Homo sapiens: one gene and its partners. The protein of the gene in region 2 interacts with the protein of the main gene of each other region in a pairwise test. Each region holds a gene or a part of one and is shown on either strand. Other genes may lie near its edges.

The links. The genes of interacting proteins can lie anywhere in the genome.
Region 1: the proteins of BNIP3L (region 2) and LDLRAD1 interact in binary tests that used the Homo sapiens proteins (3 or more experiments, as listed by UniProt).
Region 3: the proteins of BNIP3L (region 2) and SMCO4 interact in binary tests that used the Homo sapiens proteins (3 or more experiments, as listed by UniProt).

What each region holds. Positions count from the first base shown.
Region 1 is NC_000001.11:54,008,187-54,015,186, reverse strand, and holds part of LDLRAD1 (low-density lipoprotein receptor class A domain-containing protein 1), read left to right. Parts: intron 1-822; coding exon 823-951; intron 952-2,906; coding exon 2,907-3,044; intron 3,045-4,776; coding exon 4,777-4,905; intron 4,906-6,056; coding exon 6,057-6,205; 3' UTR 6,206-7,000.
Region 2 is NC_000008.11:26,407,048-26,413,785, reverse strand, and holds the end of BNIP3L (BCL2/adenovirus E1B 19 kDa protein-interacting protein 3-like), read right to left. Parts: intron 5,787-6,738; coding exon 5,683-5,786; intron 5,560-5,682; coding exon 5,410-5,559; intron 3,423-5,409; coding exon 3,374-3,422; 3' UTR 659-3,373; downstream 1-658.
Region 3 is NC_000011.10:93,533,392-93,540,391, forward strand, and holds part of SMCO4 (single-pass membrane and coiled-coil domain-containing protein 4), read right to left. Parts: intron 1-7,000.

The DNA.
Region 1 (7,000 bases), on a different chromosome or scaffold from region 2:
GGTGCAGTGAACTAGATTGCACCATTGCACTGCAGCCTGGGCAACAGAGCCAGACCCTATCTCTAAAATATAAAAAATAATAATTAAAAAAAGCAATAATAATAGCTCATACTCAACACTTACTCTGTGCACATTAACTCAACAAATTCTAATCCTCTCAACAAAGTCTAAGGTAGCTATTATGGTACCCATTTTCCACATGAGGAAACTGAGGCACAGGGAAGTGAAGTGGCTTACTCAGTGTGGCCCAGGTAGGATGCGGTAGAGCTGGGATTCCAACCTGCATCCCAGCAGACTCCAGAATGGACAGTCAATTGGGATCGTGGAAAGGGCACGGGTTTTGGCATCAAACAGGTGTGGATTCACACGCCAGCTCCACCCAGGGTGACATGAATCTTTTCTTCCTGAGCCCTAGTTTCCTCATTGATAAAATAAAAGGTTGTTTTGAAAAATAAAGCACGCTTATGAAGGGCCTAATGGAGCTTCTGCCCCAAGGTGGGGGCTGGACATGCAGGCGTCCATCTCTCCCTGCGTCCTGAGGAAGTCTCCTGATGGCGGGTGGGAGGGGAGGGCTGTCCGCCTCTGCCATTCAGCCAGCTGTGGGCCCCTGGCCAGGGTGGCACCTAGTGGGGTGGGCCCACAGGCAGAACAAAGAGCATCAAGGAGGGCTTGGGAGCTGCTCCTCCAGGGAAGCCATCCCTGCTCTGCTCACCCTCGTGGGGGAGAGGCTGCTTGCAGCGGGCAGGGCGGAGAGGGAGCTCCCTGTTCCTAGCGCTGGCCCCCTATCACCACCACCCCCGGGCTTGTTTCCCCCCCACACAGCAGGCGGCGGCCACCTCTGCTGCTCACGTCGCGGGGCCTGCCTCTCTGCCTCTCTGCTGCTCCTCCTGGCAACTGTGGCGGCCCTCATCGCCTTGGTCACCATTCTTGGACTCCCATCATGCACCCCAGGTCAGGGCGGCCAAGAGAGGGTGGGTCAGACCCGGCGGGGAGGGCATGGGAGGGCACAGAGAGATGAGGGAGCCCCGACCTGCCTGGCTTCTCCACCAGGTGACTTTGGACTAATTCCTTAAGGTGCATGCACAGACACACACAGACACCTGCACACACACTGACTATACCTGTTTCTGAGCCTCCATTTGCACATCTGTGACATGATTATTGAGAGGACCCAGCTCTGATGTCACCTCCTCCAGGATGCCTTCCTAGACCCCCAGGATGGGTTACGAGCCTCTTCTCAGCCCCCCAGTCCCTACACTTCCTCTTCCCCTGGCCTGGCCACCCCGGGGTGGTGCTATCCAACTGTGTGCCCATCTCCACCACAGGGGACCGGGTGACATCCCATACATGCCTGCAGCCCCAGCTTCAGGGGTGAACAACCCCAACACAGTGCCTGCCTTCAAGGAGCTAATAACTGTTCCGAGAGCCGTCTAGACGTGAATACACATTACAGCGGGGTCCCTGGGAGCCCTGAGAGTCTAGCCCCATTGAGGAGTCAGGGTAGGAACAATGGGTATTAGTAGTGGGGGGATGCCAGGAAAAGCATCCCAGGCACAGGGAACAGCATGTGTGGAGCCCTGAGGGGTGGGAGGAAGCAGGAAGAGAAGAAGAGACTGCAAGAGGCCAGTGCACAGGAAGGGCTGGAGTGACAAGTGGGGCCCAGTGCCAAGGGCCTCACAGGCTGCACCGAGAAGGGAGGTCATAGTCCAGGAGCCACAGAAAGGGGATTAAGTTGGGGGCAAGTTGGGGGCAGGCTGATGTTTCTGAAGGATGGCTCTGCAGCCAGGCAGGGTGGGTATAGAGGGCTGAGGTGGGGGCGGGGGCTGAGATTCGCAGCGCTCCCCCTGCCCTGCAGGAACACAGACCCTGAGGTGGATGAATACATGAGCAGCTGCAGTCAAGAGCCTGTGTGCACATCTGTGTGTTTAGCGTGTCTATGAGTGTACGCAGCTGTGTATGCATGTTCATGTCTGTGTGTCAGTGCGTGTGTGCACATCTGTTGTCTGTGTATCTGTGAGTGTGCACATAGGTGCAGCAGTGTGTGTGTGAGCATGTGTTCATGTGTGTGTGCATCTGTGTGTGTCTGTGTCAACATGAGTGTCTCTGAGAGTTGCTCCCCCCCGCCGCCTCCCCCACACACACTAGCTGAGGCAGCCCAGGGACTGAGAGGTGGTTCACGCATGCACAAACACAAATGCACAAACTGGCTCCCATCCCCAATTATGCACACGTATACACATGTGGGGCCAAGGGGTTCCTCCTACCTTGTCCGTAGGTTTCTGCCTTTTAATTCTTTGGGGCAGCCCTAGGAGTGGGTATTCCTTTTCTCCTCCCATATGGGGGGCTAATGATGACGTGTCGCAGGGGTGTTTGGGGAACTATAGAATAAAGATATGAAAGTGCTTTGCAGTTGTGCCCAGATAGAAGGAATTATGACATATGGCCCTCCAGCCAGCCCAAATATATTGCTTCTGACACTCTAACCTGGTACCAGGAGCTCCACCATTAAAACCACTTCACTGAATTGAACATTGTCCTCAGAAGCTTCCCATGACACTGTAAATAAGTTTTCAATACAAGAGAGAACCATTACTAGTTCTGCACATTTTCTGTTCTATGTTTCTTCACAGAGATGCTTTCATTTAATCCCCACAACAGTCCCACGGGGTGTGTGCTATGATTCCCATGTTGCAAACAACCTGAGACTCAGGGTGGTCAGGTCATCTGCCCAAGATCAGGCAGCCGGCAGCGGGTACAGCTGGGGCTTGAACCCCATTGATGGCGCTGGGTCCATCCTCCCCACTGCCCCAGCCCCTCAGGCCAGCTCTAGGCGGAGTTCAGGTGAGGAAGGTTTGTCCTTGTGAGCACCACCCTTGACCCTCCAGGGCCTTTCCCTGCCCATTCAGGAGCCCAAGCTTGTATAACACTGACAAACAGGACAGGCTTCTTGTGCCATGACCAGAGGAGCTGCATTCCAGCCAGTGGGGTCTGTGATGGCGTTCGCACCTGTACCCACGGCGAGGACGAGGATGAGAGCTTGTGCCGTGAGTACCCGCTCGGTGCTGCCCCTCCCAGGGGTTCCCCCACACTCCGATGCTCTTGGCATCCATACTGAACACATCAGGCACCTTCAAGTCCCCATGGCTTTGATGCTCCAGTGCCTTCATCCAGGAACACCTGCCCCGACCTGGTCCCAGTCAGGGACACACATACATGCCCCCACTAAGGAATGCCTTCACCCTGTGCGTCTCCACTCCCAGAGAACCCGTATTCATCCCTCAAGGCAGAGTTCAAATGTTACCTCCTCCAGGAAGCCTTCCCTGACTCCCACACTAGGTTAAAGTGTCTCCTTTGGGCTTCCACAGTCCCTGTGATTCCCTGTGTCCCAGCCCTTGTCACACTGGTTGTCGCTCTTGATTGGCACATCTGCCACCCCCATCAGACTGTGAACTCCTCTGAGGCAGGCCCAGTCCGCTTGATATCGGGGCCCCAGTGCCTAGCACAGAGGGGTATTCAGAACGGCTTGCTGAATGAATGAGCGAATGAATGAATGGGAAGACCTGGCCCCAGACCTTAGACACACCTGAAGGTTCTCAGGAGAGAGGAGCCTGACCCCACAGGAGAGAGAGAGCCTGGAGAGGTGCAGTGGGTGGGGTGGGGGAGCTCATGGAGGGAGAGTCATTGCATCACAGACCCTCAGGACAAGAAGCAATCTCAAAAGCATCTAGTCCTTGCCCCAGCTCATCCCCAATCCCCTCTCTAGCAAGCCCAACCGAGGCCACCCAGCCTCTGCTTGCATCCCAGGGGATGCAAGGATTGGAAGGTTTTTCCATGGGAAGGTTTTCCTTGTCCCAGGCTTAGAGCTGCCTCCCAGAGTGGTTCCTCCCTGATTGGTTCCAACTCTGTCCTTCTGTCAACCCTGCCCCGATAGACCACACTTTAATTTCTGCCATGATGGTGGTGCTGCATGGATTTGAAGATTGCTCCCTTGCCCTCCATGAGGTTTCTCTTCTCTACGCCACATCCCCTTCTCCAGGTCACAGTCAGCCCCCTTGTGACCCAGTTCCTGGCCCTCCCCACTCCATCAATGCTCCACAGAATGAATATCAACTTCCCATGTCCCCGTCCCTGGACAGGCCTCAGAAACATCCTCAGCCCTTCTAGCTGGGTCTGGGCAGTCTAACGAACAGAATCTTGCTCCCTCCCTGCCCAAGGTTTTCTACCTCTAGTGATGTGGCCTGAGTTTGTGTGAATTTTTGATAGCCCTATCACACTGCTGCCTAACAGAACACACTTTCAAGAAAGGTGCTCTGACTCTGCCTTACAAGGTGTGTGAACCCTAGATCTTCCCCTGAGATCCGGGGCCCAACTGTAAGACTCCACATTTATTCCTGTGATGTTCCAGTTGGAAGAGGCTTCCTGGAGGTGATGGAACTTGAACCTGAACTTGAAAGAATGGTTTTGGATAGGTGTCAAGGAGGCTCTTTGTGGAGGGGGGCATAGTGTCAGCAGTGGTGTGGGGCAGGAACACACCAGAGCTGGGGAGGAACTGAGGAAGGGAGGGGCAGATCTCTGGGCCTCTGTCCAGCAACGGAGCTCTCCTCTCCCTCTGACTCCACCACCTCCCCAGGAAACCTTCTGCTTGCACCCTTCTGGGCTGGATGGGCACTGATCCTGAGTTTGGCCACTGCCAGGGTGGTCAATCCTCCTCCCGATAACCCTCAGACAGCTGTGGCCAGATGTGGACTTCTTCCTGCCTCCTCTGTACCTCTACAGGAGATGTGCCCCAGAGCCTCCCCCACTTCCTTGTGGCCCACTGTGGAGACCCGGCCTCCTGGATCTACTCAGACCAAAAATGTGATGGCACTAACAACTGCGGGGACTGTTCAGATGAACTGAGCCCAGGTAGGGGTCTGGGCACAGGCTGGGCTGGGGCTGGTGTCCAGGCAGCAGCCAGAGGGCAAAGGGTGAGCAGGGAATCTCTAGGGCTCCCCCTTGCATGCTTCCCTGCATCCTAGGAAGGAGTTTTCTACCCCTGCTTGAATACATCCTGTGATGGGGTACTCACTACCACTCCAAGTGACTTTTTCTGGAGGCTCATTCTTCTGCAGTGGGGAAGTCACCTTCAAAGGCACAGATGAGAAAACTGGGTCCCAGAAGGTGGTCATGCAAGGAGTACATACATGGCCCAGCTGGGATTTGAACCTGGGGTTCCCTTATCTCTGCACCTCCCAGTGACCCTGTGAGGAAAGCAGGGCAGGAATCACTGGCCCCAATTTGTATGTAAGTAAATGGAGGCTTTGAGAGGAGAAACTTAGTACAATGTGTGACAGGAAGGGAGCTCAGGTGTGAACCCAGGCCTCCTGATCCAAGTCCCGAGTCCTGTAGCTGCCCTAGAGTTTCCTCTCAATCTCTTCCCCAGTGGTCAATCAACAAACATGTTCTGAGCATTGGTGGGGTGCTCAGAACGCACCTGGTATCAGATTCAGGTGGGGGACATCAGGAATCAGGCATGTGTCCTACCCCCAGGACTCACATCATGCTGATGCCGAAAGGAGGTGCTGGGGACCTGGAGGAATCAAGGGAGATTTCTCAGAAGAGGTAGCATTCAAGAAGACCAAGAATAGACGGGTTTCAGTAGGTAGAGGCTGGGTGTGTGGGGAGGAATGCCGGAGGCCTGAGCAGAGGAGAGAAGGCTAGGAGCACCCTCAGGCAGTCATGGCAGGTGAGCATAGCTGGACTCAGGGTAAGGAAGGGCACCCATTCATATTGCAGTCTTTACCGTGTGCCTGGGACTTTGCCTGACATCCTTTGCTTGATAACAAGCTTGAGCACACTAGGAAACAGTTTCAGACAGGGTGAGGGAGGTCACATAGCCTGTGAGCTGTGGAGTCTAGATTCTCTCTGCCGCAGGAAAACTAGGAACACACTCAACTCACGTCAGATGGGTTGGGGCCATGGGGAGCTACGGCAGGTTTCAGAACTAGGGAGTGCCCTGGTGCACAGAGCGTTCCAGGACACAGCAACTGCTCTCCTGCTGGCTCTTGTCTCTGCAGTAACTGTGTGCCCACCCTGCGGCCCTGGGTGGTGGCGCTGTCCTTCAACCTTCTTCAAGTACTGCGACTGTATACCGAGGCATCTCTGCCGCGACCATGTACAGCACTGCTCCGACTGGTCCGATGAGTATGCCTGTCCCGGACCCTGAGTGGGCCACTCAGGCCAGCATGGAAGGCTGGCTGGAATGGCACTGATAACCCTTCACATGAAAATCAAATCCTAGCGCACAAGGGCAGGAAGCAGCCTTTGAAATGGGATCTACACATCATTTCTGAATAGGAATTTTCTCTCCTCCTTTCAAGTTGTTCAGCCTCTGCTTGAATGCTTCCAATGACCAGGAGCTCATTACCATGTTAGGTGGCTTCTAACAAAGATGATGTGGTGGAACCCCGTCTCTACCAAAAATACAAAAATTAGCCAGGCATGGCGGTGCACACCTATAGTCCCAGCTACTAGGGAGGCTGAGGTGGGAGGACTGTGTGAACCCAGGAGGTCAAGGCTGCAGTGAGCTGTGACCACACCACTGCACTCCAGCCTGAGCAACACAGTGAGACCCTGTCTCAAAAAAAAAATGAAACAAAACACAAACACAAACAAAGACGAAGGGAATCTGCTTCCATGATTTCATGCCTGTCTCTGGGGCCACACAGAGGAAATCTGCTAACTGCTCCAAGGCATACTTGTGGATCCTAATCTCGTCATCCCTTAGAGTGATGACATGTCTGGGGCTTAAATGACAAGCCGAGTTTAGCCTTCATGGATGGCACATACGTGAAACATATGCCACTTCCTACCCCTTTGGTACCTAAGGCAGATATACTGGGCTTGGATGCAACTTTAGCATCTTCCCCAGTTTAGTTAACCCAGCAGGCTCTACTGATTTAACCAAGTGACACAGCACATGAAACAGGATATCTGGCATCCTACCAGTGGGAAGCCACCC
Region 2 (6,738 bases):
ACTTTCTGACCAGTTTACTTCCGCTTTGTTTCTCATACGTATCCTGGCCCACCACTGCCAACCTCAGGGTGACAGCCCAGGACAGGCCCTAGCTCCTCGCCTAGAGAACTGATTGATCTCCTCTGGTACTCTCTCACCAGATGGCTTGACTGTCTAAAATTTACATCTTAAATCACCTCCTGGTTTAAAAGAAGTAAACCCAGCTAACTATATGATGAAGTGTGACCCCTGGGAGGGCACACACATTTCAATTAGGTTCAGTACTAACCTACATTTTTCAGTTTCCTCTGTATCCATCCTGTTTTCCAGGCACGTGGAACTTCCAGTTCCTTCTGGATCCACTTTCACTGGTGTCCCACTGTCATTTCCATCAGGGCACACTCTTCTTCTCTCCTGTACTTCCTGAGCACTCCTCCCGTGAGCGCCCTCCTGCCACTACCTGGAGGCAAATGCTCTGAATGCCACAGTCCCGAGGCACTCACGAATGCTCACACTGCGGTGACTGTCCCCACAGAACACCGTTCACACCCTGAGCACTGTTAGGAACTCCACTGCTGGGGAAGCCAGATGACTGGAAGGCTGTGTGTAGGCGAGGAGGCCTCATCGCCTGAAACTCCCAGGCAACAGGTGCGACAGAAAAATGATATACTGACAGGAAAAGTTTTGTGAGAGCTTTAATGGCACAAAATGTTTATAGCTACAAGTTATACATGTATTGTAAACTGTATATAACGATACAAAGTGCTAACTAAAATAGATGAAGAATGCATAATCACTTTGGCTCAGTTAATTCCAATAATTTCCACAACGGGTTCATGAAAAAACTTATCTGACTGGCTAAGTCTTCAATTCTCATTTTTTTAGAATAGTAAATATTTTTACTGCAATCACGGGAACTTGTTGCACTTTCCAATGTGCAAGTTTGTGCAGTTTTGCTCTTGATTCTATTTACAAACATCTTGAGCCAGTTTTCATCAAACATATGAAAAATGAAGCCTGCCTTTTTGTCCCCAAATTGTAAACAGGTGTAAAGCTTTTTAAACATTAACCTCACAATTTCAACTATTAATTGTTGAATTCTCCTTTCCAAACCACAATGTTTTCGTTCAACACAAATCTGGGTGTAGCAGTAAAACGTTCATCCCATGTGTTAGGGCTACAGATACATACTACATGCTCTCATAATAAATTCTACTGTGATGATGTATTCACGTTTTAAGTAATTTTCCATAATTTCACTGATGCTTTAAGAAAAAGGGCAACACTATGTTTCTTTTTAACGCTGAAAGAAATCATAAATATACCCAGTTTCAGTGGCACCACTGATAGAACTGCTGCTGAACTTGGAAAGAGCACAATGCACTAGCTGTAAGAAGTCACTTTCAGGTAAAGTGTAATTTTACTTTTCCCCCCTGTAATACCAATTGTAATAGAAATTGCATACTGTAGCAGTTTAGCTAGTCAGTTCTCCTAACTTTCCAGTCTTTCCAATTTTATTCAGGCTTTTCAAAAATCAGTGAGCCATCAGATTTACTTTCTTCCCAAAGAAATTCAAATATGAACACTTGAAATAAATAGGTTATAGAAGGCAAATCAAGTGTTACCAGGTTTAAGAGTAAGACAGAAACATGGTCTAGGAAAAAGATGTCCAAAATTATTTAGACATCAAATGCTAGAAAGAAAAAAGAAAATTACTTTCAAAACTAGGATATATCATCTTTCTTAAAGATAGCCAGCTATATTCTTGAAAAAAGATAAAAATTTTGTTTAATCTATATGTTATTTTCCACTATAACACATCAATTTTACAAATGTTGATGTGAGAAAAGAGTTAGTTTCTGCAAACTGGCAAACCTGTCTGTCATAGTGTTTTTATTCAAGTTGACCTGGTGCACTTTATAGATTGCTAGTTTTAAAATTAACAACGGTTCTCTAAATAGTCAATATCAATGTCTATATCATAAACAGTAATTATTTATATATAAAACATGTGGTATCCTTCAGAGTCATGCTAGATGTTCTGAAATCCAAGAAAATCTACTCGAGATAACTGGTCATCCTGATGCTTTCTAACAATTTGGTCCTAAAGCTTCACATTTTAGAAATGAACGAACAAGTATATCACTGAAGGAATCTGTTGAGTGTTCTGAACTTTAAGAGTTTACCATAACTGAAAAGACAGCTACATGAGAAAATGACCAGTGCCTGCAGTCGCAGGAATCACCTTGGGAAGACTGTACAGTAAACATTATTCAGTGAGAGATCAGAAGGAAACAAATGGCATCTTTTCAGAACGCTGTCAACTGTTCCCACAACCCAAGTCTGTTTTTCCAAGTTGCACAAGTGCTTGGAATAACTCTGAAACAATTCTCTTCAGAGTTTAAAGGCTTCAGAGTATAGGTGATGCTTCCTAAAACAAGAAGCCTGTATTAACATCACAAATTGGAACTCATTCCAAAGCCTCTTCTTAGAGAAAAAAAAATAAAGAAATAAAAAATAAAAAATGTAAAGAAGGTCATGAAAAATTCACATGCAGCTAATTATCGTAAAAAATATCAAACACACACGCAAAAATCTCAAAAAGCAATTTCATATATTTCTAAGCCTGAGACGTTCCTTATCAGAAAGAAAGATTCTACACCATAGAAAAGACAGCATTACAACATACTAGTATGAAAATCTGCTGATGTATTTTACTTCTTATTCTATTTCATACCTATCATTTATACAGTTTGCCTCCTATAAATTAAAAGACGCTATTAGGAGGCTTAGACAAAAAAGTGGCTCCAAAGCTGGTTTAAAATATTTTTTTTATTGCCCAGGATATTTTTTTGTTGTGCCTTGCCTTTTTTTTTTGTTTTGTTTTCTTTTTAATAACTATCAACTCAAACTTAGGGAAACTTGCCTTTGTCTTGGGGGAAAAAAAACAACTAGACAATAAAGCTTCTTTTACATCATTTGCTAACCTGATCTCGTTTTAAGAGAGAGATGGTAGTTATGTTGCAAGAGTAAAATTTATACCATGAATGATACAGGTCTAGTCTGGTGGCACTAATTAGAGATAATAGCATTGCTGACAAAATTATAATCTGCTGGTGGCATTTGCGGAAAAGAAGCCCTTGCAAATTTCTAAACAACAGTAAACTCTGTTAGGAAATTCTAAAATGTCTTCAGGCCAAAAAGGGTATAAGGTTAGTAAAATGCCTCAACAGAGTTTGAATAAAATATTGAATTTGAGAGTTACTGGAATTGGATATGTAAAAACAGGGTGGTAGGTTGGGTCATGCTTACAATGGTCTCAAGTTCAAATAAGCTACTGTGACAATACACCACTTCACAGGTCACACGCATTTCCAGGGGCTTTTCCTTTCCCTCAGTAGGTGCTGGCAGAGGGTGTGCTCAGTCGCTTTCCAATATAGATGCTGAAAGGAAGCAGAAGCATCATGTTTCACCTGTTTCAACAGTTCTATACCAGCTTGTCCACAGGTTGAACTCTACTTAAAACTCTTCAGTCTTTGTAAAAGGCTCTAAAGGTTTGTGGGTACCGCTCCCCAAACACCGTGAAATCATCACTGACTTTCTTAAAACCAGTCACCAGCCCGGCCAAACTGGTTTTATATGAGTTTGTTTACTCATTAAATATCGGGGCTCGACAGCAAAGGGGTAGTGATTAGACAAAGTAAAGCCAGAGAGAACAGATCCCTCCACAGAGTAAATAAAGCAGCCCAACTCCTTCAAGATGTTCCTCTTTGGTGGACAGAAGGTTCTACTGACATTTCAGACACAAAAATATAGTAATATGTGAAATTATTCTGGTGCTCTATGTAGGACAAAAGAAAAAAAAAACCTTAAAAGCTGCCAGTGCTTTAAAGACAGCTCTTACTAATAACTCCTAAGGATTAGGGGCCTTATAATACTTTTTCATGCCAAGAAAGTATTTGGCCTCTTCAACAGCAAAAGCAGAAGGGAAGTTAAGGAAAGTATGTAACTAGCTTCACCTCCAGTGCAATTAAAGCAACGAACTTTTTAAACACTCTTTTTACATTCATCTATAGCAATAGTTATACTTACAGCCAAGACAAACAATCTGAAGATGACTGAAAGAGAGACGGCAAGGTATAGACACCAATCGCTTAAGGGCAATGAACTGCTGTATAGGCAGCAATGTATTAAACTCCTACACCTGCCCCACATCAACCCCCACGCAACAGTCACACAGTCCCCTTCTGCACAAACCCCTTCTAGGTTGCTGTTTGTTGATTACTGTCCTTGCCCTCACAAAAGCAGATCAAGCACCCAAGAGAGACAAGACGGGTGTGTGGAAAGCTGTATGCAAGTTTCTGAGGTCGTGACTAAGAATCTCTCTCCAATATGCTGAGCTCCTTAAAGGGAAGAAAAAGGATGACCCCATCTTCTGCATATCTTATACTGAAAATGACCCACTGGGCATGCTTAGAGCACAACATACGTCTTGAAAAAAATTAACAGCTACTGTTTAACTCCTAAAATCTTTCAGAAGTGTAATTCCTCAATTGTTTAAATCAAGGAAAAAAAGCAATTTATTTAAAAGATGTGGCTAAGAAACTAATGAATTACACGTAAATATGAGGTTGATTTTAGCAAAATAAATGAAAATACTACAAAGTTAAAAAAGGAAAAAATTAGCACCAATCAACCTACCAGTTTCATTAAAAAAAACTATTCAATGTAATCATGTATTTTCCCATATGAAAAAAAGGTATTTGCACTGACCACAAAATGTACATGCTAAAGATTAGTTTAGTTCATAAATTACTCAAGATTAAATATTACACAACAAAACCCAAAAAGAAAAATCAATCACAGAGGAGTCCGCTTACATTTGATCATTTAGGGGATTATTATGAACATCTTCTTTTTTTTTTTTTTTTTTCCGAGATGGAGTCTCACTCTATCCCCCAGGCTGGAGTGCAGTGGCATGATCTCGGCTCACTGCAATTTCCGCCTCCCATGTTCAAGCGATTCTCCTGCCTCAGCCTCCCAAGTAGCTGGGACCACAGGCATGTACCACCATGGCCAGCTAATTTTTGTATTTTTAGTAGAGACCGGGTTTCACCATGTTGGCCAGGCTGGTCTTGAACTCCTGGCCTCAGGTCATCCACCCATCTTGGCCTCCCAAAGTGCTGGGATTACTGGCATGAGCCACCACACCAGGCCAAACATCTTATTTTCAAATAAGAAAACACACTCTACTATTATTAAAAATGCTTATTTGTAGAACAATTGTGCACCCACTTTTTTAAGTTCACCTTATTTGCACTAAAACATTGAAAGTAAAGCAATAAAAACTGCTTTCACATACATTTCTTCAATCTGAAAATAAGAGGATAAAATGAATGGAAAAAACTTCAGGAGTTGACCGGTACTTACCCTAGCCCCAAAGCCAAAACATGAGAAAGGAAGAGAGATGGAATGAACACCTTCAGAAATTCTGCGGAGAAAATACCCCCTTTCTTCATGGCTCCACTTTTCCTCATGCTTAAAGACACAGAACGTTTAGGGTGTCTGAAGTGGAACTCCCTGAGAAAGAAATTCAGAGGCAGATGTCATTTGCTGAAAATATCGTGGGGATTACCAGGCCCATTGCCTGTAAGCGTGCGCAGATCAACTGTGTCCACTGACAAGAAACATGTGAGAACTCACTTGGGTGGAATGTTTTCGGGTCTACTGGACCAGTCTGATACCCAGTCCGCACTTTTCTTCAAAGCCTCGACTTCCTTCTCTCCTTCTACAACTTCTTCTTCTGACTGTAAAGAAGAATTCAAACTTTAAGAAAAAAAGGAAGACCAATTCCTCCTAATACAAAGAAAAATCTAGACAGAAAAGATACCAAACTCATAAGGTTGTGTCTCAGAAATTTTAGATAACAAACATGTTGCTTTTCTAAAAAATGCTGAAAAATAATGTAAGATCAGAGTATGTAATATCTTCAGAACAACCTGAGTGAGCTTCACTGTTGGGATATCTAAGCACAGCACAGGAACTGCATAAGACTGTACTTTGGGATGTAATGCTAAGGGAAGTATGAAAAACCTCGATAAGAGTTAAATCTGGGCAATACTTACATGGAGGTCCATTATATTATTCTCTCTTGTATGCACTTAAAATTTTCGTAATTAGGCCGGGTGCAGTGGCTCATGCCTATAATCCCAGCACTTTGGGAGGCTGAGGCAGGCGGATCACTTGAGGTCAGAAGCTGGAGACCAGCCTGGCCAACATGGTAAAACCCCGTCTTTACTAAAAAAAAACACAAAACTTACACGCTGGGTGCGGTGGCTCACGCCTGTAATCCCAGCACTTTGGGAGGCCGAGGTGAGCGGATCACAAGGTCAGGAGATCGAGACCATCCTGGCTAACACAGTGAAACCCTGTGTCTACTAAAAATACAAAAAAATTAGCTGGGCGTGATGGCGGGCACCTGTAGTCCCAGCTACTCGGGAGGCTGAGGCAGGAGAATGGCGTGAACCCAGGAGGCGGAGCTTGCAGTGAGCAGAGATCGCGCCACTACACTCCTGCCTGGGGGAAAGAGCGAGACTCCGCCTCAAAAAACAAAACAAAACAAAACAAAAAAAAATTAGCCGGGCATGGTGGCGGGCACCTGTAATCCCAGCTACTTGAGAGGCTGAGGCAGAAGAATCGCTTGAGCCTGGGAGGTGGAGGTTGCTTGAGCCTGGGAGGTGGAGCCGAGATCCAGCCACT
Region 3 (7,000 bases), on a different chromosome or scaffold from region 2:
CACCATGTCTCTTTCCTGCATCTGGCTATAAGCAACACATGGCAGTGCAGGGAAGAAGGGAAAGAAATCTCAACTCCCCAGAGCACAGAGAGCTGGGCCTACTTGTGCTCTGTCCTGGCCATCTGTGTAGCTTGAGGCAGACACTTTGGCTTTCAGGGCCCCACTCAGCCACCTCGAAATAAAGGGTAGAGGTTGCACTAGCAATCCCCTAACCCTCAGTCTATCTAAAAAAAGAGAAAAGGCCTCTGCGTGTGGGGCTCTGATGTGCACAAAGGAGGGGATTCTGCAGGAGCAATGGTATTGGAAGAGAACATCCCAACTCAACTCTCCTGCCCCACCTAAGGCCTCCACCGAAGCCTCCCACCTTCATCCCTTTTAATTCCCATAGCCCCCACCCTCATCTGCCCCGACAGCTACTAATCTCCTGACCTCTTCTCTTTAATGTTACCAGATTAAGTCTACTTATGTAATATGCAAATATGATATGTAGTCACTCATTTTAAAACAGTTATTAGCCAGGTGTGGTAGCTCACGCCTGTAATCCCAACACTTGTGGAGGCCAAGGTGGGCAGATCACTTTAAGTCCAGGGTTCAAGACCAGCCTGGCCAACAAACACAGTGAAACCCCATCTCTACTAAAAATACAAAAATTAGCCAGGCGTGGTGGCGCACACCTGTAATTCCAGCTACTAGGGAGGCTGAGGCAGGAGAATTGCTTGAACCTGGGAGGCAGAGGTTGAAATGAGCTAAGATCGCGGCACAGCACTCCAGCCTGGGCGACAAAATGAGACTCCGTCTCAAAAAAAAAAAAAAAATATATATATACACACACACACACACACACACACACACACACACACACACACACACAAACACATATATATATACATATATACACACACACATATATATACATATATACACATATATACACATATACATATATACACATATATATACACATACATATATATATATATATATAGAGAGAGAGAGAGAGAGAGATACATATATATATGGAAAAGGGAACACAAATAGGTGGAGTTACTTACAATTACCAAGTACTAATTAGGTAATATGCTGAGAGATTTATAAACATTATTCTTTTAATCTTCACAACAACCCTGTGAGGCAGGTACTAATTATTATTCCTAACTTACAGGGAAAAGCTGAGGCCCAGGGAGATAAAATAGCTGCTCAAGGCACACACCCATAAGGTGCTGAATGGGAGCTGGGTCCAGTGTGGCTCAACTCTGCAGTCCCTTCATCTCCCAAGGGTTCCCCCTCCACCACTCCTGCTCTCTGCCCCTTTGAGCAATAGGTAAAGGACTCTGTGGTCCAGTAAGCCAGGGCTTTCCGAAGCCCACTGTGTCCACTGGACAGCCCAGCCTGCAGGGAGGGCCCCGAGATCAGCCCATTCATGGAAGCCACCAGACGCCTTCTCTGCCAGCCCATTGTGTCACACCCCTCAAACACCTTCTAAGAAGTCATCGCTTCTCCCCAGAGCATCCTGCTAAGGGTCAAAGCACCACAATATTCCCATAGCAAGCCAGGAGAGGGGGAATAATCACATGCAACTAGAAGAAAACATCTGCTTTACCACATTCCTGGAGGCTTTTCCAGAAGCAACAGTGCCTGATTTTCCAGCACGCAATCTTTAAGTGTCTTCCCAGTGCCCCTCCCCAGTCTCCAATCCACGCCTCAGCAGCACAGGACAGACTGATCTTAATACTTACGGACCCTTGATTCCTCAGATGAAAGGTTTGGAGAAATACTCTGGCAAGTTACACCAAAATTAAAATGTCCTATTACCATAACTAGCATCCGGGAGAAACAGAGAATGTGAAATCAGGAGCTCTTGCTTCCAGGTACCACAATGCCACCACTGGTGGCATGACGCTTACACCACCCTGAGCTGAGCCATGGTCCTTGAGGGTTTGGTTCCCTCATCTTCTATAGTTGCTATGGACCCACCACTCTTAACATCTACGATCTCAGCAATAAGAATCAAGAAGCCAAATAACCAGTTCTCACTGCTAGGGGCTTAAGCAGAGGGAGTCGAGCCAGAGTCGCCGCGATGGTGTTGTTGGAGAGCGAGCAGCTCCTGACGGAGCTGACCAGACTTTTCCAGAAGTGCTGGACATCAGGCAGCATCATATCACCTTGAAGAAGTATGACAGTCGAACCAAATCCATTCCAAAGAAAGGTACTGTGGAGGGCTTTGAGCCTGCAGACAACAAGTGTCTGTTAAGAGCTACCGATGGGAAAAAGAAGATCAGCACAGTGGTGAGCTCCGAGGAAGTGAATAAGTTTCAGATGGCTTATTCAAACCTCCTGAGAGCTAACATGGATGGGCTGAAGAAGAGAGACAAAAAGAACAAAACTAAGAAGACCAAAGCAGCAGCAGCAGCAGCAACAGCAGCACAGTAAAGGACATACATTTCCTGCTTTCACCAATTAACCACTGAATTGCTATTTTTTCCTTTTGGCCACATAGCTAGGTTTCTGGTTCCCCCACAGTAGGTGTTTTCACATAAGATTAGGGTCTTTTTGGAAAGAATAGTTGCAGTGTTTATAGGATAGTTGTGGTAAGAATCTAGTTTATTTTGCATTTGGCTAATTGGTCTGTGCTGCATGGTTATATACTCCTGGATTATAGATAAAAAGTCTCCGTAGACATCTCTGTGAAGAGCAAGCTATCATTAAACATGTCTGTTTATCAAGAAAAAAAAAAGAAGCCAAATGATGAGGTTTGCAACCTCACCAATAATAAATGAAATGCCTACTGAACAATGATCCATTTCTTTCACCCAGGGGAATGGCAGCCCATTACCACTGACAACAGGAACTAGCACATCTCTTGAGAGCATAGTATGGGTACTGCTGCAACATTTTAAATGAATTTAACATTTGACATGCCAATTCTACTCCTAGAGAAACATGTGCATACTAATATGTATGAATGAAGATATAATAGCAAAACTAATGAGTTAGTTTATATGTCTACCAGTAGGGGACCAATTCATAAATTATGACATAACTACACTGGAAAATATTTTGTAGGCAAATAAAAGACAAATTAAAAGAACAGAGAAGAGCTACATGCATGAAAAGCTCTCGAAAATATACTATGTGAAAAAAGCAGTATGATGCAATCAGATTCATGCTTCTAAAAGAAGGAAAACCATAGTGTATTTGTGTATACAGGCTTGACAGTTTCAGGACACGGATCCAACTGCTAACACCAGTTATCTCTGAGGACCTGGAGGAGCTGGCACCTGGGGAGGGGTGCTGGGTGAAGGGGAATGTGACAAGTCTGCTGTGTCCTTCTGCACTATTTAAATGCAAGGGCAGGCTGCAGGAGAATACATTTACATATTACCTATATGATTTCAGAAAAAAAGCACCTAAACTGATTAAAAAACCACCACCACCAAAACAAGCTACTTATGCTGATGTGAAATTGCTGCACCAATTTGAACAGGTTTCTATGCTGCACTTCCAGGTCTTCCCAAGACTGACAAAGTTCAAGCCAATTTCTGCAGTACTGATGACAGACTGAATTGGGACTAACAAGGAAGAAGGAAAATGTGGGATGCAAGGAAAACATCTGTAAAAGCTCTGTGGAAGCTGCAAACCAGTCCTACCCTGAACCTGCTCATCACCAAAACTCACTAGTTCTGGGGCCTTCCTCCCTCTCATCCCTATAGGATGAGAAATAAGCCAAAACCGGAATCAAGAGAGAATTCCCTTTCCCACGGCAGAGGGAGGCCTCCACTGTCACCAGCAGAGCTGCTCCCAGGCAAAGCCAAAGAAACGGCCTGGCCAAACTCCACCTTCCTGACAAAGGCACCATGTGCCAGGCTCCTGGGATTGCAGGGACAGCCAAGACTGGCAGCCCTGAAGCCCACGCATTTGAGTCCCTCCACTTCGGCAAACAGCCCAGGAATCTTTTCACACTCACTACTGAAATCCAAACTGAACCAGTATACAAATCAGATGGTCCTGCCAACAAAACAGGAACAAAATGGAAAAAAGGGTGATAAATCAATGATATCCTGGCTAAATATATACTTCTTCTTTCTGCTTGCAGGGGCACTGCTATAGATTTAAACCTTTGATAAATATCTTTTTTGCTTCCCAGTAATAATTAAAGCAAACACACCCAAACACGCACCTAAACACGAAGCAAAAAGAACGAGAAAAGGGCTTTGCTCAGGACATAATGTTCAAGAGGTAGGCATGACAGCTCATATCCACAGGCAGAAATGCTCTTCTCCCATTAAAACATGTACCTGTCTGGCACGGGTTCTTACCCCACAAAAGAAACAACTGGACACTCTAGGGGACTGCCGAGAAGTGCCCTCAGAACAAGAAGAGGTTCCCTCTTTGAGGGAAAAGTGTAAACATCAAGCAGAAAGTGGGTGAGCAGACTCTTGCACGGAGTGACTCACCGGCAGAGACAGCTTGTTGCTGGAGATGCTGGGAGCAGGCAGGTCCAACAGAGGTAACCTGGCTTCCTCCTCGCAGCGAGAACACAGCCCAAATAAAGCCAGAATCTGACCACCTGACCTCCGGCCTGACCAGAGCCAGCACAAACTCTCAGAAGGGCAGGGATGTTGCACAATTTGGAAAAACGGAAGCCCAAAAGCAAGTTTATGACCACGTCTGGCACTGACTAGGGGAAAGGGCACAAAACCAGTATATTCCTGACATGGCAACAGTGCGTCCTACCGATGACAGGACATGCAGACCCCAGCCAATCATCTCCTTGGGCTCTGATGCCCGCTTCCCTGAGCATGGCTTGGCGCCCCGCAGAGACTGCACCCGTCAGAGGAGGCTGGCCTCGACTCCTCTTGGGGCTGGCCATTATGTTCACTGCCACTCCTGCTTCCCAGTCAACCCCTGCAAGTTTGGTGACCACAAGTTAACCCCATCTAGGGCAGATCAACTCTTATGGAATAGCCAAAACTGAGGACCAAACCCTGGTGGGTCCCCTGTGCCACCAGGGAAGAGGGGTGTGCAGACAATACCCCAGGAAGGCGTCTTCCCTTCCACACTTCTAACCTTGACTAGCATTTCCCAAAATGCAGTCTGAGGAATCCAACTTCATTCTCTGCGATGCTCCTGGAAAGTTAGGAATGATAAGGCTGGGGTGGCACAGGGAAGGGAAGGCCCTTTCGGACTGTGCTCAGCCACCTTTCTCTAGCTGTTAGCAGAGACCAAAGGAGGCACTTTTGGTTTCTGCAGAGATTGCTTTTAGCCTGCACATAGTCAGCATCTCCAACACCCATCCCTGGGGCATCAGACCTGAAATGGGAAGGGATGATGCAATTCTAGTATCCAAAGGCACTAAGCTCTATGGATTCCAACAAGCCCCCTCTTCTCCGCAACCACTGCCACTGTCTTAATGTCTTCTGTTCAGGCCCTCATCTCTCAAGACATTACTTTAATGAACTAGTTTCTCTACACCTAATTTCTACTTGCTTCACTTCAAAACTCCAGACAGCCACCGAGCTACCTTTCTAGAATACAGGCCTGACCCTCTCTGCCTACAGGACTAAGTCCCAACCCTGGCACAGCATGCAAGGCCCCTGCCTGCCTTTCCAGCTGGAAGCATGGGCTTTGGAGTCCTACAGATCATTGCAGTGACACTTAGATAAACCACTTGCTGGCTATGTGAACACACATGTGTTTCTGCACCCATTTCCACATCTGTGTGTTGGGAATAGCATGATCAGCCTCCCAGAGCTACTGTGAGGACCGAATCCAAGTTCTAAAGAGCCTAGATCTCACCAACCTAGCTCCAGGGTCCTCTCTCTTTCCCATCTTGCTATACCAGCTCTTCATAATCAATGAGAATTGACTCAAGGGTAAAAAAAAAAAAATACATGCAAGATCTAAAAATGAAGGGTCATAAATTTAAAAATTAGGCCACCACAATGTGAAAGAAACCAAAATTAACTCATTATCAAAATAATGTAGGAGGACGGAAGGAACAGGAAGAGAAGGAAAACAGTACATTTAGGAAGAAATGCTTTTAAAATATAAGTCTCTATGATGTTTTGAGCCTCATTTGCTCCAAAGATTTAGGAAGATGACATTTCAAAAGCTCACAAAGACGACACTTCTACTTTTTAAAAACTATTTCCTAATTATTATCTTCAGAGAACTAAGAAGTACTTTCACAGACTGAATGTTAATAAAATTCTCAGAGGAAATTCTGGCATCAGTCACAACAAACACCCTCTTGGAATTTAATTTCCTTTCAGCATACAATTTACTATGGAAACTCATTTGTGATGCCACCACAACCAGTCAAAATCTGCCTGGAGCACAAAAACTTCAGAGTCCCAAAAGAGGGCCTTAAAGGACTAGATGGAAATTGGTCCCATATTAAGCCAAATCCTGCATCTAACAGAAATTTCCCCCACACCAAACTAGCTTTGACCGTCAGCCAGCCCACTCCTCTCTCTAGCTGCCCTATACTATAGGCTCTTCCAGGGCCCCCTTCCAGCTAGAACCCCCTGAATTCTGTATCTTTTCCCTGTCCAACAAAATTAATTTAAAAAAAAAAAAAAGGAGGAAGGCCACAAAATGGGCAAAGGGAAACCAGCTACATCCATTTTCAACTTTCTATCAAAGACCTGTCCTTTCTGGCTTACGATTTTTTCAATTCCCTTGGACAAGACAATCACAGGCCCTGGAATATTCATTGCGCGTGCTGGGGCTTAGGGTGGGAAGGCAAAAAGGCTAGAAGAATCATTGATAAGTACAAAAAGTACTTTAAGCCTTTTCCCCCTGAGGACAACTGCTGAAAGACTTACTCAATCCCATTGACCCAAGTACCTGTGTGCAAGGGAAAGGAGTGGATGCCAATCTTTACTCAGCACCCACTGCAATTAGTGGGTACATTTCTTGAATATAAGACAGACAGTATTATCCTGATTTTACACATGTGGAAACCAGGCTCAGAGAGGTCAGGCAGCAGGTTCAGTAT